Linked DNA regions of Homo sapiens: region 2 is linked to region 1. The links come from fine-mapping of genetic effects on gene expression. A gene starts in region 1. The other region holds a variant in brackets. All regions are shown on one strand. Distances are between the middles of the regions. Region 1 holds the start of JPT1 (Jupiter microtubule associated homolog 1). Region 2 overlaps ARMC7 (armadillo repeat containing 7).

The links. PIP is the estimated chance that this variant, and not a neighbour inherited with it, causes the effect.
Region 2: its variant is the best candidate, but not a certain one, in a credible set for the expression of JPT1 in whole blood (TOPMed, PIP 0.65).

What each region holds. Positions count from the first base shown.
Region 1 is chr17:75,152,353-75,156,736 of GRCh38, reverse strand. JPT1 (Jupiter microtubule associated homolog 1) reads left to right here and starts at 2,225. Exons shown (of 5, transcript NM_016185.4): 1 at 2,225-2,395. The coding sequence starts at 2,340. RefSeq lists an enhancer at 1,142-1,737 and a silencer at 2,390-2,629.
Region 2 is chr17:75,125,244-75,129,627 of GRCh38, reverse strand. ARMC7 (armadillo repeat containing 7) reads right to left here. Exons shown (of 3, transcript NM_024585.4): 3 at 1-951. The coding sequence ends at 590. Among named protein-coding and RNA genes, the nearest start is that of NT5C, 4.3 kb to the left of the region's middle. The variant C/T (reference allele first, on the strand shown) is at 2,139.

The sequences.
Region 1 (4,384 bases):
ACGTGGGAGGTGGAGCTTGCAGTGAGCCGAGATTGTGCCACTGCACTCCAGCCTGGGCGACAGAGCGAGACTCTATCTCAAAAAAAAAAAAAAAAAAAAAAAAAAAGAATGGGAAGATTGGCCAGGTGCGGTGGCTCATGCTGTAATCCCAGCACTTTGGTAGGCCGAGGTGGGCGGATCACGAGGTCAGGAGATCTAGACCATCCTGGCTAACACGGTGAAACCCCATCTCTACTAAAAATACAAAAATTAGCCAGGCATGGTGGTGGGCGCCTGTAGTCCCAGCTACTTGGGAGGCTGAGGCAGGAGAATGGCGTGAACCCGGGAGGCGGAGCTTGCAGTGAACCGAGATTATGCCACCGCACTCCAGCCTGGGCGACAGAGCGAGACTCTGTCTCAAAAAAACGAAAACAACAACAACAAAAAAAGAAAGAATGGGAAGATTGGCTGGGCGTGCGGTGGTTCACACCTGTAATCCCAGCACTTTGGGAAGCCAAGGTGGGTGGATCACGAGGTCAGGAGATTGAGACCATGCTGGCTAACATGGTGAAACTCCATCTCTACTAATAAACTACAAAAAATTAGCCGGGCATGATGGCACGCACCTGTAGTCCTAGCTACTCGGGAGGCTGAGGCAGGAGAATCGCTTGAACCCGGGAGGTGGAGGCTGCAAGTGAGCAGAGATCGCGCCACCACTGCACTCCAGCCTGGGCGACAGAGCAAGACTCTGTCTCAAAAAAAAAAAAAAAAAGCTAAGATTTTGGCTAGATGCGGTGGCTTACACCTGTAATCCCAGCACTTTGGGAGGCCAAGGAGCATGGATCACCTGAGGTCAGGAGTTTGAGACCAGCCTGGCCAATATGGTGAAACGCCGTCTCTACTAAAAATACAAAAATTAGTCAGGGGTGGTGGCGCACGCCTGTAGTTCCAGCTATTACGGAGGCTGAGGCAGGAGAATCGCTTGAACCTGGGAGGTGGAGGTTGCATTGAGCGCCATTGCACTCTAGCCTGGGTGACAAGAGCGAAACTCCACTTCAAAAACAAAAAAAAAAAAGAAAGGAAAAAAAGAAGGGAAGATTCTAACACAAACAAGTGGTGCGCTTCGTGCTGTTGTGGTAAGCACATAAATGCATCATCCGTGCTTTCTAGAACAGAACTTCTCACTGGCTTTTCATGAAAGCCCGGGGGGGGAGGGTGGTTAACCTAGACTGCCCAGAATACAAACTTCCAACTACCTGAAAGGTGGCTTTGCAAAGAGGAATGTGGTTCAATTATTATGGAAATATTGAGACAAGCAAAGACATCTGCCTTGAGGAAATATGCAAGACATGAGAAGGGCCTGCCCTCTTTTGCCCAAGGCTTTCCTATTATGATCTTGTAAACCATCATTCCTGAATCCTCCAAGTGTGTCTGCATTTGTCGCATGGATAGATTTACCCAGACAGGTGGAAGAGTCATGACTTAAGGGTTATAAACAGCTGCAGAGGCCTGAGCTGCTTCCATAGTCTTGGTAGCAGGGAATGAGTCCATTCCTGGTGCCAGGCATTAACCAGCCTTAGAATAGGCCCCCAAATAGGAGCGACTGTAATTTTGGTCCAGTACATGCACCACCCATTACAACTAAACAGTAACATTAAAATGTAAGGAATTTCCAGTCCTTTTAAAAGGGATCATCTTGGTGCGCTCTCTGTTGCTGACTCATTGTGCGGCTGCTTTGAGACTATTAGGTTTCTAAATGGGACACACAGTAGGTATTCAACAGATAAATGTCAACTTGTTGCAGTACTTTTCATCCTTTAAGGAGGATGCCCTTACTATCCCACCATCAGTAAAGCAAATGAGAGAACAGTAACAGTGACAAATCTCCCTTCTGCTTGCCGAGGTTGTAACTCCCCAAGAAAGAGCTTCCCCCTCTGTCAGGTAACGTTTTACAGTGACAGCCAGCACGACTTCCACCCAGCGCGAGGTAGATTCGCCTTCCGTCCAATCATCGCCGAGATTTTGGGGTGGGGGAGGGGAGAGAGTCCCAAGGCCTTCCCAGTCCAGGAAGGGGGCGGGCTTAGGCTGAGCCGTGGCCGCCACAGCCCATCGTAATGCCGCATGGTGCTTGGCACTCCAGAGAGCCAATAGGAATGAAAGAATTCATTTGAATCGGCCAATGCCGGCGGGTTAGGGGGCGGGGGTTGAAAACCCTATAAAGGCGTCGATCGGCCGGACAGGCGGCAGCGGCGGCTCCTGCAGCGGTGGTCGGCTGTTGGGTGTGGAGTTTCCCAGCGCCCCTCGGGTCCGACCCTTTGAGCGTTCTGCTCCGGCGCCAGCCTACCTCGCTCCTCGGCGCCATGACCACAACCACCACCTTCAAGGGAGTCGACCCCAACAGCAGGAATAGCTCCCGGTGAGGCGACCGGGTCGCGCCCGAGCCGCGCGGGGCTGAGGGGCTGGGAGGGCCGCTGCCGGCGGGGCCTCGCGCCGGTCGTTGCGGGTAACGAGCCCCGTGCGCTGTGCTCGCGCCGGGGCGGGTGGCGGGGTTCTGCCGTCGGCGCCGCCTTTGTGCCGCCTGGCGAGCCCTGCGCGCCGGCCCCACCCGGGTCCCTGCTGCTCTCCATTCATTCCTTCCACGGAGTCAGGGGCTGAGGAGGCCGGGGCTGGTCGCCCCTCGGAGCACGGCCGGTTTTCGTTAATCGGAACCTTCGGGGAGGGCTTCGCTTTCTCCTGTGTGCATCCCGGCTGGTGCATCCCCAGGGTGGTGGGCTTGGCCCCCCAGGTGCCCGGGGATCCTTTAGGGCCCCATGCATGGTCAGGTCCTATTGTCCCATTGATGGGCCACGCGCTCCTGTCTCTCCCCCGTGGCATGCGGTTGGTCTCGCTCTCGCGCGCAGCCATTGGATCCGGAGACCGGATCGATCAGGTCCGGCGGGCTCCTTACCCTCGCCGTGCCCCCACTCCTTATTCGGACCTACCTGACAGGTGCATGTGTGGTCGAGCGGGGCTGGTCATCGCGACCCTTCACCCCCCATTGAGGACCCAATCGTTCTTCCCCTCTTCGAAGTGCCTCCCCTCTTCCAAGTGTCTCCCCTTCCTAACAAAGGAAAGACCCCTTCTCCCCATCCCTGCGCTCATTTCTAAGGCGGGGGGCGGGGGCGGGCGCGGGGAACGAGCCAACCCGAGTGGGTTTTCTGCGCTTAAACCTTCGGACCGTGGCCTTTGCATCCTACCTTCGCTTCCTCCTTTGACGTTTGCCCAGTGAGTTCATCCCTGGCCCTGGTTCCCTTGCAGGAGGAGGTTTCTTGTTCTTGGGCGGGGCCGGAGACATCCATTGTCTCTAACGTGGTAGCGCTACCTGGGAAGCGGGGGATTTTTCTTGCCCTTCTTCCCACTGCTTTTTGGGCTTGGGGCACTGGGTACAGTGTTTGGACAGGAACCCTTTTCCAAGTCCTTGCTTAACTTACTTGGTGGAAGGGTTTGGATTCTGTGGAAGGTGTCCACATTGTCTCAGCTAATTGCACACTGTTCTTTAAGGTGGGTTACAGTTATGTCTGGGATCCTCTTCAAGGCTTGGAAGAAGCTTAAATCACTTTTTTGAGCATGTATTTTACATCGATTATGACCTGCATTCATGTGTGGCTACCCTCGGGGTCCTGGCCAAGTGGCACAAAGGGAGCCATTTTGTGGGGCTAAGAAGACACGTGAAATAGCCATATCTCACAGGGGTTAGAGAACTTGGGAACAAAAAGCACGCCTCACTCAGCAATTGAGCCTTAGGAGGAAAGCATGGGAAATGACATTCCTTTACAACTCAATACTTTCAGGTTTACAAGGTCAAAAAGACTAGGTAAGATTAAAAAAATAAATTGGTGATTACTGGGAGGATGGGGTACTTAAGTAGCACAGACCTAGGAAACTGGTCGCTCCCTTTCTGTTTTCTTTCCAATGAGATGATTTCTTCAGAGAACAGGAAGAGATTGAGCCTTGGTTTTTCATTTTGTGTTACGAGGCCAACTTTCTGCCGGTTAGACTTCAGTCGTCGGAATGATAATGTGTAATCTGGGGTTTTATTCTTTGGGGTTGAGTTGATATTAGTGTTTTGTAAAGAATTTCAGTAATTAGGTCAAATGAATCCTCACACTTAGTTTTTCATGTGTACATTTGAAATGTGAGACAAATGAGTTCTGATCCTGTGAAATGAATGTTTAATTCACCTTTCGTCATCAATTTCCCTCCAATATTATGCTCTAGGGACTGTAGTAGCATTGTCATTTTATTGTCTCTCTACCTTCCCTTTTTCTATATTCTCACCTAATTCTCATAAACTTAATTTTGTCCAGTAATGTTCTCCTGGCCCCATAAACTCGTTATAAATTTAGTCTGGTAGGGAATGATCTGC
Region 2 (4,384 bases), 27 kb after region 1:
GGTGGACAGTCAATGCTGGGCCACAGGTTATCCAGGTTGGCATCCACCAGGCCCAAATGCCCAGCTTGGAGAGCCCCTGGGGGAGGCATCCATCCTCCAGAGCCCTGGAGGGGGCACCACATCTTCCCAGGGTGAGATCCTTTCACCACGAGGCATCTCATTCCTATACCTGAAAACTACTCCAGACACTTCTGTTAAGGGATAATCCCTGATTTCCTGCAGCGAAGGCAGCTCTCCTAAGCCTCAGGCCCAGCTCCTGAGAACACTGTCCTGCAAAGCCTCTGGGTCCAGGCACTTGGCCGCTTCTTACACCAGGGCCTGAGTCTGGTGGTGGTGGCACCTGATGTAGGATTGAGAGTGCCAGCCTATGAACGCAGCTCCAGTTTGATCTTCTCCGTGTCTCTGGAGTCTGGCTTCCTCACTCCCAGTGGCGTTTCATCAGTGTAAATGCCTGTCCTGCTGAAAGAACCCGCCTTTCAGATGGCTGAAAAGGCACCAATGGGGCAGTATGTGCTCCCCGTTCCCTGCGTCCACATCAGGACTGTGGTCTCCAGCAGTAGGGGTGCCACGGTCTCGCAGTCTCCATGGATCAGCGCTGCCGTGGGGCCACGCTCCTCGGCAGTGGGATACCCAGGGCAGAGTGCGCCTGCCGGCTGCGGGCCTCGGCCACCTGGCGGGGGGAGCAGAAGTCCTCCAGGAAGATCTGTGCCAGGTTCCGGAGCCTGGCGCTGGCCGAGAGGGAGAAGCGAAGCATGCACTGCACCACGGGCGTGGCGGTCAGCTCTGGGAGAAAGCTGCGGCCCGGCGGGCTCAGGTGCATGAGCGTGGTGATGGCAGACAGCACCGTCTCCTCATTGGGGCTGGATAGGCAGTTGATGATGAGTGGGACACCTCCTGCGTGCAGGATGTGCTCCTTGTTGGCCCTGTCTGGGCACAGGTTGCACAGGCCTCCTGTGGGAGAGCAAGGAAGAGTCTGGATGCTGTAGCCCCGGGCCTCCTCCCACCTCCCCTGCCCGTGAGCCCCAGGTAGGGGCCCAGGCTGTTGAGAAGCTGGCCCCAGCACAAGGCATCCAAAGCCCATTCCGGCTCCTGCCTTCTCAAGTTTCCAGAAAGGCCTGCCTGCCTGCTCCAGCCTGCCACAGCCCACCCTTCCAGAAGTGGGCACAAATCCCTTTCCCTCTCAGTTCAGCAAGTTCAATGGCTGATACGCTTTTTTTTTCCCCTTTCTTAAATGTAAAAACCTAAAACAAGGCCGGCCCGGGCACGGTGGTTCACGCCTGTAATCCCAGCACTTTGGAAGGCTGAAGTGAGTGGATCACCTGAGGTCACGAGTCCGAGACCAGCCTGGCCAACATGGTGAAACTGTCTCTACTAAAAATACAAAAATTAGCCGGGTGTGGTGGCAGGTGCCTGTAATCCCAGCTACTTGTGAGGCTGAGGCAGGAGAATTGCTTGAACCTGGGACTCGGAGGTTGCAGTGAGCCGAGATTGCATCACTGCACTCCAGCCTGGGCAACAGAGCTAGACTCTGTCTCAGAAATAAATAAATAAATAAAAAACTAAAACCCTGTAATGTATCATCACCTTAGAACAGTTTATAAAAGTTATAAAAATATAAGATGATGGTTTCATGGGTATATACTTATGCCAAAATTTATCAAATTGTACCCTTTAAATATGTACAGTTTATTATGTCCATCATATAGCAATAAAACTGTTAAAATACTAGAATGGGCTGGGCACAGTGGCTCACACCTGTAATTCCAGTGCTTTGGCAGGCCAAGGCAGGAGGATCCCTTGAGCCCAGGAATTCGAGACCAGCCTTGGCGACATGGCAAAACTCTGTCGCTACCAAAACACACACAATTAGCCAGGCATGATGGTACACGCCTGTAGTCTCAGCTACTTGAGAGGCTGAGGTGGGAGGACTGCTTGGGCCCACGAAGTGGAGCTGCAGTAAGCCATGAACGCACCACTGCACTCCAGCCTGGGCGACAGAGTGAGACCCTGTCTCAAAAACAAACAAATGGCTGGGAGCGGTGGCTCACGCCTATAATCCCAGCACTTTGGGAGGCCGAGGTGGGTGGATCACCCTGAGGTCAGGAGTTCCAGACCAGCCTGGCCAACATGGTGAAACC[C/T]CGTCTCTACTAAAAACACAAAAATTAGCTGGGCCTGTGGCACATGCTTGTAATCCCAGCTACTTGGGAGGCTGAGGCAGAATAGCTTGAACCCGGTAGGTGGAGGTTGCCGAGATGGCACCACTGCATTCCAGCCTGGGCAACAGAGCAAATACTACGTCTCAATGTTAGGCGGCTGACCTAACATTTGTTTTTCATTCTACAATTTGAAATATGTGAATATATGTAAGTATTTAGTAAAAATGGGATACTCTGCTTGCTGCTTGGTCAGTTTTCTGAGATGGGGTGGGATCTCCCTATGTTGTCCAGTCTGGTCTTGAACTTCCGGCTTTAAGCCATCCTTCTGCCTCAGCCTCCCTGGGAGTTAAGACTGACTCCAGGCATGCACCACTGTGCATGGCTTACGCCAGCTTTTTTTTTTTTTTTTTTTGAGACAGTTTTGCCCTGTTGCCCAGGCTAGAGTGCAGTGGCATGATCGCGGCTCATTGCAACCTCCGCCTCCCGGGTTCAAGTGATTCTCCTGCCTCAGCCTCCCAAGTAGCTGGGATAACCGGCATGTGCCACCATGCCCGGCTAAATTTTTGTATTTTTAGTAGAGACGGGGTTTCACCATGTTGGCCAGGCTGGTCTCGAACTCCTGACCTCAGGTGTTCCACCCGCCTCGGCCTCCCAAAGTGCTGGGATTACAGGCATGAGCCACTGTGCCCCGCCCAGCTTTTTTCATTTACCAATATATTGTGATTAGCGGGGCATGGTTGAGCACACCTATAGTCCCAGCTACTAGGGAGGCTTAGGCAGGAGAGTTGCTTGAACCCAGGAGGCTGAGGTTGCAATGAGCTGAGATTGCGCCATTGCACTCCAGCCTGAGCAAACGAGTGAAACTCCATCTCAAAAAAAAAAAACAAAAACAAAAAAACAATGTATTGTGAACATCTTTCCATGCCAATAAATTCACATTCATGGCTATGCAGTGATTGTAGATTAATGGTAAGGAGTGTACCATTTGACAGATATAGTGTAATTAAGAGAATAGAGCATTTTAATGTTATTTCCATGTCACCGTTACTAGGATTCTGGGGGAAAACAGAAAAGGCAACAGTGACAGATCAGTGGTTCTGGATCAAAGAACTCACGTGCTCAGGTAATGTGGCTGGAATCCCACTCCCATTCCCTCAAGTCAGGCCCCCTCAATGTAATGACCTCTTAGCCTTGGGGACAGATGCTACCTTGTTTTGGAGGTCACTCTGCTCAGCACTGGCTGCTCCCTGCGGGAAGATGACTTCCTGTGCATCCTGAGCTTCCTGTCATCACGGTACCCCTCCCTTTGGTTCCTGCTCAGTGGAGGAAGCCACCTCTCAGCTCATTTGCAAAACATGCCCAGTGTCCTGAGTGACCAATCAGTGAAGGCCACAGCTCTACCCACTTCCCCTGTTTTTCTGGAAACTAACAAAGAGAAGACTTACCTGAACCTGAAACCCAACTAAGACATCTTCCCCAGCCAGAGGGACAGGTGCCCATGGTGCCCCCGCCAAGGACCCTCCTCCACTGACTGGGGCAGGAGTCTGCCAAGGTTTCACTCTGCTGCCTGCTCCCAAGCAGCACCTGGGTCAGGCTGGTCCTGCTTTGAGGGAACCTTTTTTATTTTTGAGATGGAGTTTCACTCTTTCACCCAGGCTGGAGTGAAGTGGCGCGATCTCGGCTCACTGCAACCTCCGCCCCACCAGGTTCAAGTGATTCTCTTGCCTCAGCCTCCCAAGTAGCTGGGATTACAGGTACATGCCACCACACCTGGCTAATTTTTTTTTTGTATTTTTAGTAGAGACAGGGTTTCGCCATGTTAGCCAGGCTGGTCTTAAACTCTTGACCTCAGGTGATCCACCCATCTTGGCCTCCCAAAGTGCTAGGATTACGGGTGTGAGCCACCGTGCCCAGCTGGGGGAACATTATTAAAGGATCCCACTGCATGTGGAGTAAATTCCAGATGTCCGTGTGCTCCTTACCCCTGAGCCGTCCTGTCTGTTCTTCCCTCTCCCTGGCACTCATTGCAGTCTCCAACCTCAGTCCATCCCTGAGACCTTTCAGCCCCCAGTTGTCACACACTGACACCCTCTTGCTGGTAACAAGCCCTCCACTGCTCTCCTTGCAAGTGGCGTCTTCCTGGGATACCCGACTAGGTGCTCTACCATGTCAGGGCAGCCCTTCATCACCTGATCCTTTAAGCACTGACCCGGGGGGGAAAGGGTTCA